Homo sapiens: one gene and its partner. The protein of the gene in region 1 purifies or fractionates together with the protein of each later gene. This does not show direct contact. Each region holds a gene or a part of one and is shown in the gene's direction. Other genes may lie near its edges. The genes, in order: KHDC1 and TTC28.

What was found.
Region 2: the proteins of KHDC1 (region 1) and TTC28 purify together in Homo sapiens (affinity purification with mass spectrometry; one large-scale study listed by BioGRID and IntAct). This does not show direct contact.

What each region holds. Positions count from the first base shown.
Region 1 is NC_000006.12:73,240,581-73,243,801, reverse strand, and holds the end of KHDC1 (KH homology domain-containing protein 1), read left to right. Parts: intron 1-1,271; 5' UTR 1,272-1,284; coding exon 1,285-1,396; intron 1,397-1,564; coding exon 1,565-1,747; intron 1,748-2,073; coding exon 2,074-2,273; 3' UTR 2,274-2,488; downstream 2,489-3,221.
Region 2 is NC_000022.11:28,673,341-28,676,840, reverse strand, and holds part of TTC28 (tetratricopeptide repeat protein 28), read left to right. Parts: intron 1-3,500. UniProt on the Homo sapiens protein: During mitosis, may be involved in the condensation of spindle midzone microtubules, leading to the formation of midbody.

The sequences.
Region 1 (3,221 bases):
CTTTTATTTGATAGCAAACACTGTTTGCAGCACCTCGCTAAAACATTACTGCTCAGGCAGAACAGTTTTGTGGCAAGGTTAAAAGACTACCTGTCTCTCTAGAACAGATTCAGATAGAGTTGGGGCATGATTTCATGGCCTGGTTTTGAAATCTAGTTCTTTGTCTTTGCAACCTGTTGCTAGGATTAATAACTATTTTGTTTCCAGGACTTACCTGAATTTGACTAGTACATCTTGTTCAGCCTTAAATGCTACTGTAGAGTCATTATATATTCACTGTGTGTATTTTGCAAGAAAATGTACATGAGAGATCAACTGTATGCAGATGTAGAGAAGGTTCTCCCGATAAACTTGTGACAAGTGGATTCTGACAATGGTGTAGATCTGAACCCCACAGATGAAATTCCTGATGGCTGACTTTGTCTTTGGTCAAAAGTTGAGGCTGAAGAGTGAAAAAGCACCTAGGAACTCACAGTTGGGAGCTGACAGGCATAGTTGAATCTTCCCTACCAAACATAAACATCTCCTGCTAAATATTTTAACCAGTCAAGGTTGCTCAGTGATTGTCATGCAACAAGGTGTAAAAAGTCCATCTGTAACTATATTTGAAACCAGAGAGAGAGAACATTCCACAATGAAGACCACATTAATCTCTTTACTTCCCTTCCTAGATAAATTTACCAGGATAATCACCAAATTGCCCCATTTTAGAAAACTGGCCGCTACACCCTAAACACTCCTTAGACTCACCCAGTCAACTCCTACGATTGGCTCCCTACAACATTCTTCTGTTTGTGTAAAGTGTATTTTCCCGTGTTGTTTGCTCTCCCTTGATGCAGCACACCAAACAAACCCCGTCTTGTTGGAATACACTCTGGTCATTGGGTGACTGCCAGCACCTGTGCAAATCTAGGGAGCCCATTTGGAGCCTTCTTGCACCTCCATCCCTCAACCCCTGTCCTGGTTCATACCCAGTAGATCTGCTCCAAAATCCTTTGAATTTAGAATGAAGAAAAAATTTTGATTCCGGGGCATCAGAAAGGCAAGCACTAATCAGATGATTAAGTTTGGCATGAAGGATTAAGCTCAGAACAGATAATTACTTGGAATGAATTATCTTGGGAAGAGATACCGGGATTGTACACCCACCCTAAGGTAGTTCAAGGGGCAGGTTGTTGGGTTCCTATGTTAAGGACAGAGCCTAGGCCCTCCCTCACTTTTCCAAGTCTTTTGCCAACCAGTTGCTTGGACTTGGCCCTATTCTGTATCAGGTCGGAGCAGAGCATGGACATGGGAACGAGTGCTCTCAGCAAGAAGCCGTGGTGGACCCTGCCTCAAAACTTTCATGCACCAATGGTGTTTCACATGGAAGAGGACCAGGAGGAGCTCATCTTCGGTGAGTGGCCTTTGCCCACGTCCCCTTCTTCATCCTTGTCTTCTCAGTTTTCACTCTTCCTCTCCCCTCCCACCTTCATCAGTCACATATTCCTACCCTGAAGGCCACCTCCCCATTCCCTAAGGGCTGGTGCTTGACAGAACCTCCTCTCACCTCTTATGCTCACAGGGCATGGTGACACATACCTTCGCTGCATTGAGGTGCACAGCCACACCCTTATTCAGCTGGAGAGTTGGTTCACAGCTACAGGCCAGACTCGTGTGACTGTAGTCGGACCACACAGGGCAAGGCAGTGGCTGCTGCACATGTTTTGTTGTGTGGGGAGCCAGGACTCCTATCATCATGCTCGAGGTAGGTATCCTTGGCTGAACTGTGGTTTTAGACTTGGTGGTGGAGTTCTGGCTAAGTTGTGTAGCATCTTGGATTCTTGAAGAATCCCTTGTGTGGCTGGGGAATCCAAGTGCTTCCCAGAGTCCATTGGGAAGAAAAGTGCTCATCTTTTTTTGTGGCATGAGATTGCTTAAGGTGGAGAGGTAGCTGGGAGGTGTAAATGGGCTACCTTGGAAGGTCTGGGCTGGGGTGACATCCTCCCTGCAGCCTCCCTGATGGAGTCCAGGCCTGCCAATGGGCCCCAGTTATGGGCCCTGGTTCATTAGCCCTGGGCACTTATTTTGCAGGCCTGGAGATGCTGGAACGTGTCCGAAGCCAGCCTCTGACCAACGATGACCTGGTCACCTCCATTAGTGTGCCACCATACACTGGAGACCTGTCTTTGGCTCCCAGGATAAGTGGAACCGTGTGTCTTAGCGTTCCTCAGCCTTCCCCTTACCAAGTGATTGGTTGTTCGGGTTTCCATTTGAGTTCACTGTATCCGTAATTAAGGACTGATCTCCCCTGGGAAGTGGGGATGAGAGGAGAAATCTTGGCTTCACTTTTGGTGAGAAAGACATGATAGACACTGAGGAAAGTTTGAACTTGTGGCCGGGACCTGTCCCTCTCAGGTCTTCTAGACATGTCTGAGGGAAGTCTCTTGAATGTAAGAAAGTGTTATTGGCAAAGCAATCCAATAAAATAAGCTACCTATGATGCAAAGCCTTCGATGTACTGTCCTTTTTCCTTAGGATGAAATTATTCACCCCAGAGTTTTCTTGCACCTTAAAGTGCAGACAAATGGGGAGAATGGAAAGGTGGGAGGAAGGGTCCAGACAGAGATGGAAGGTGTTCCCACCACAACTGCCTGGTGAAGTAGGCAGCCAGGGAAGCTGGTGAACATGAGGTAGCCAGCCTTGTCCCTGATTGCCCAAGTTTGTGGGTGGGGGTGGGGGTGGGGGTGGAGGGGGTGGTTTTCAGGGAGCAATGGATTCTGAAGTCCCTCATGCCATGAATTAAATCAAATACGAAGGCTTCCTGAATCTCCATTGAAGAACGTTCTCCGATTGCCAAGTCTATATTTGGATCTGTCTAGGCAAGATTATGGCAAGCTAAACCTGTCCTCAGCTGAACTCTTCCTCTTCAAATTTGCCCCTTCTCCAGCAGCCTGCATCTTATATTGAGGCAATTGCAGTACTCTAGGAGAGTGACGATGGTGACTTGGACCAGAGTGGAGTGGTTGAAGTGTTAGGAAATGGTTGAATTTGGAAAATAATTTGAAGCCAGCAAGATTTGCTAATTACATGGTTTTCAGAAGGCCAATTACCAAATAAAGGTTAAAAGATCATATTCACAGTAGAAAAACACTTAGAGAAAATGTCGAAAGAATTCAGGTTATAGTAGTCAAATGCTGTGGCTCATGCCTGTAATCCTAGCACTTTGGGAGGCTGAGAAG
Region 2 (3,500 bases), on another chromosome or scaffold:
GTTGCCTCAGCTAGTCTTGAACTCCCAGTCTTGACCTCAAGTGATCCTTCTGCCTCAGCCTTCTGAGTAGCTGGAAGCACAACTGTGAGCCACCACACCTGGCTTTTTTTTTTTTTTATTTCTAATAAAAAAATAGAGTTTCTTGTTTCACTGGACAAAATATGCATATATAGGAAGGAAAGACTTTTGGACTTGAGATTGCGCTGAAGAAGAAAAATGGAAAAATTAGGCATTTTAGTCTCTCAGTGTGTTATTTTTGTAGCTTATACAGATATGTCTTTTTAAAGTGTCTTTAAAAAGCTTTATTGAGATAAAGATAAATGAGATAAATTCACCTACCATGAAATCCCCTTGAGTGCAGAATTTTGTGGTTTATAATATGTTCACAGAATCACACAAACAAGACAGGTATCTAGATACTTTCAGACCATTTTCATCAGTCCACAAGAAATCCCATACCCATTAGCAGTCATCCTTATTGCCTTTTCCCCTAGTCCCTGGCAATAACTAGCCTACTTTCTGTCTCTGAGTTTAGCTCTTCTGGAGGTTTCACAGAATGAAATCTTACTACATATGGTCTTTTGTGATTGACTTATTTCACGTGGCACAGTGTTTTCAAGGTTTATCCATGCTGTAGCGTATATCAGCACTTCATTCTTTTTTAATGCTGAGTAATCTTTTGAATGGATATACCATATTTTATCAGTTCCTCTGTTGATAGGCACGTGAGTTTTTTTTTCCAATTTTCGGCTATTATGAATAATGCTGCTATGAACATTTGTGTACAAATTTTAGTGTGGATGTATATTTTCATTTCCCTTGGGTATATACCTAAGGAATAGACTATCTGGGTCATATGATAATTGTTTAAGACTACAGGCACGTGCCACCACACCTGGCAAATATTTAAAAATTTTTTGTAGATAAGGGGTCTCGCTATGTTGCCCAGGCTGATCTTGAACTCCTGGCCTCAAGAGATCCTCTCACCTCAGCCTCCCAGAAAGTGTTGGGATTACAGATGTGAGCCACTGCAGCTATAAAAGAGGCTCATGCCTCTTTTTACATTGTGTGTGTGTGTGTGTGTGTGTGTGTGTGTGTGTGTGTGACAGGGTTTCACTCTGTCGCCCAGGCTGGAGTACAGTGGTAGGATCACAGCTCACTGCAGCCTGGACCTCCCTGGGCTCAGTTGATCCTCCCACCTGAGCCTCCTGAGCAGGTAGGACTACAGGCACGGTTAATTTTTGTATTTTCTGTAGAGATGGAGTTTTGCCGTGTTGCCCAGGCTGGTCTGGAACTCCTGGGCTCAAGTGGTCCACCAGCCTCTGCCTCCCAAAGTGCTAGGATTACTGGTGTGAGCCACCACACCCGGTTTACTCTTTTGATAATGTCCTCTGATGCCAAAAAAGTTTTTAATTTTGAGGAAGTCTAGCTTATCTGTTTTTTCTTTGTTGCTCATGATTTTGGTTTCATGTCTAAGAAGCCATTGCCAAATCTAAGGTCATGAAGATTTAGCCCTATGATTTACCCCTATGTTTTCTTCTAAGAGTTGTATGCTTTTAGCCCTTATATTTAGGTTGTTGATCCATTTTGTTTTAATTTTTGTGTGTGGTGTGAGGTGTGTGTGGTATGTGGTCCAAATTTATTATTTTGTATATAGATACAAAAAGTTATCCCAGCACTATATATTGAAAAGAGTGTCCTTTCCTTTATTGATGGTCTTCACATCTTTTTTGAGAATCACTTGAACATATATAAGGTTTTATTTCTGGACTCTTAAGTTCTGTTCTCTTGATGTGTATTTCTTTCTGTCTTTATGCCAGTACTACACTGTTTCATTACTGTAGCTTGGTAATAGGTTTTGAAATTAAGTGTAAGTCCTTTAACTGTGTTCTTTTTCAAGACTGGCTATTTTGGGTCCCTTATATTTCCAAATGGATTTTAGGATCAGCTTATCAATTTCTGTAAAAAAGACAGCTGGGATTTTTACAATGATCATGTTTTACCTTTTTTTTTTTTTTTTTTTGGAGACAGAGTCTCGCCATCGCCCAGGCTGGAGTGCAGTGGTGTGATCTTGGCTCACTGTAACCTCTGCCTCCTGGGTTCAAGTGATCCTCCTGCCTCAGCCTCCCAAGTAGTTGGGATTACAGATGTGCACCACTATGCCCAGCTAATTTTGTATTTTTAGTAGAGACATGGTTTCACCGTGTTGGCCAGGCTGGTCTTGAACTCCTGACCTCAAGTGATCCACCCGCCTCAACCTCCCAAAGTGCTGGAATTACAGGCTTGAGCCACTGCTCCAGCCAACAGGTCTTAACTCTTACGCATCTTATGGTTCTCATATGTATAATTGCATAGTAATATCCATTCCAAAGAATTGTTAAATAAAAGAGGATGTAGGTATATATTTAGAACAATGCCTTGCCTGTGGTAGGGATTTGATATTTGTTTTTTATCTTCTTCTGCTAATTAATTCCAGTTAAAAGTGAGCCACAAAACAAAAAACAGACAAACCCAATCAAAAACCAAGAAAAACAAAAACTCCAAAACCACAGACCAAAAAAAAAAAAAAAAAAAACCACAAAGAAAAAACCACAAACAGAAACCCCAAGCCTCTTCCTGTCCCCATCACCTTTCTACGACCCAAGAAATCCCTGTGAGCGCTTGAGGAACCACTAAAGAAGACAAGTCTCTCATACCACATAGTTGTATTGCAAATGCATGTGAAATCAAGGTTGCTATATAGAATATTTGACAGTGAATTTTAAATATTAAAAATAATAAAAGTATAATTGAAAGCTCTTTATTTTTACTCTATGATTCTTGTTTTGTGTGCTGTTTTTTCACTACTTTTTTTCCTGAAAGCAGAAACAATATTTTTTCATTAAATTTCATGGTTACAATCTTTCTTCCTTTAAATTATTGCTATTTTAAAAACTGTTAGCGGGAAGCCTGATGTTTGAACTTAAACTTGGTAGAACATTTATTTTGGTGTCTCTTCAGCAGCTGGGTGCATTGTTATTTTCTAAGAAGAGAAACTAGAGACATAGTATGATACAAATATGATGCTTGGAACATCTCATGTTTCTTGTATATTCACACTGTATTATCTATAGTCTTCCAAAAACAAACACTAACCAGTTTTCTATAGGCATGTTTTAGCAAAATATAAGTATCAATGCTAATTTGATATTCATTTTATGATGATTGACATTAGAGGACAATAATCTTAGTAATTTTCATCTTTACCAAAGTGATACTCTTTATGCAATTCTGTGAGTGCAAAGAATGTTGATATCAAATTTGTCCTAACATTTTCTGAACTACGTCCATAGTATGTTGAAACAATATCATGGTGATTTTTGACTTCCATTATGGCATAGAAATGCCAAGTACGTACCAGGTAAGGGGGGGAAGCTACATACAATAATAATGCATTCTCTTATTTAACATTCGCAGTTAACTTTTTTTTTTGAGACGGAGTCTCTGTCGCCCAGGCTGGA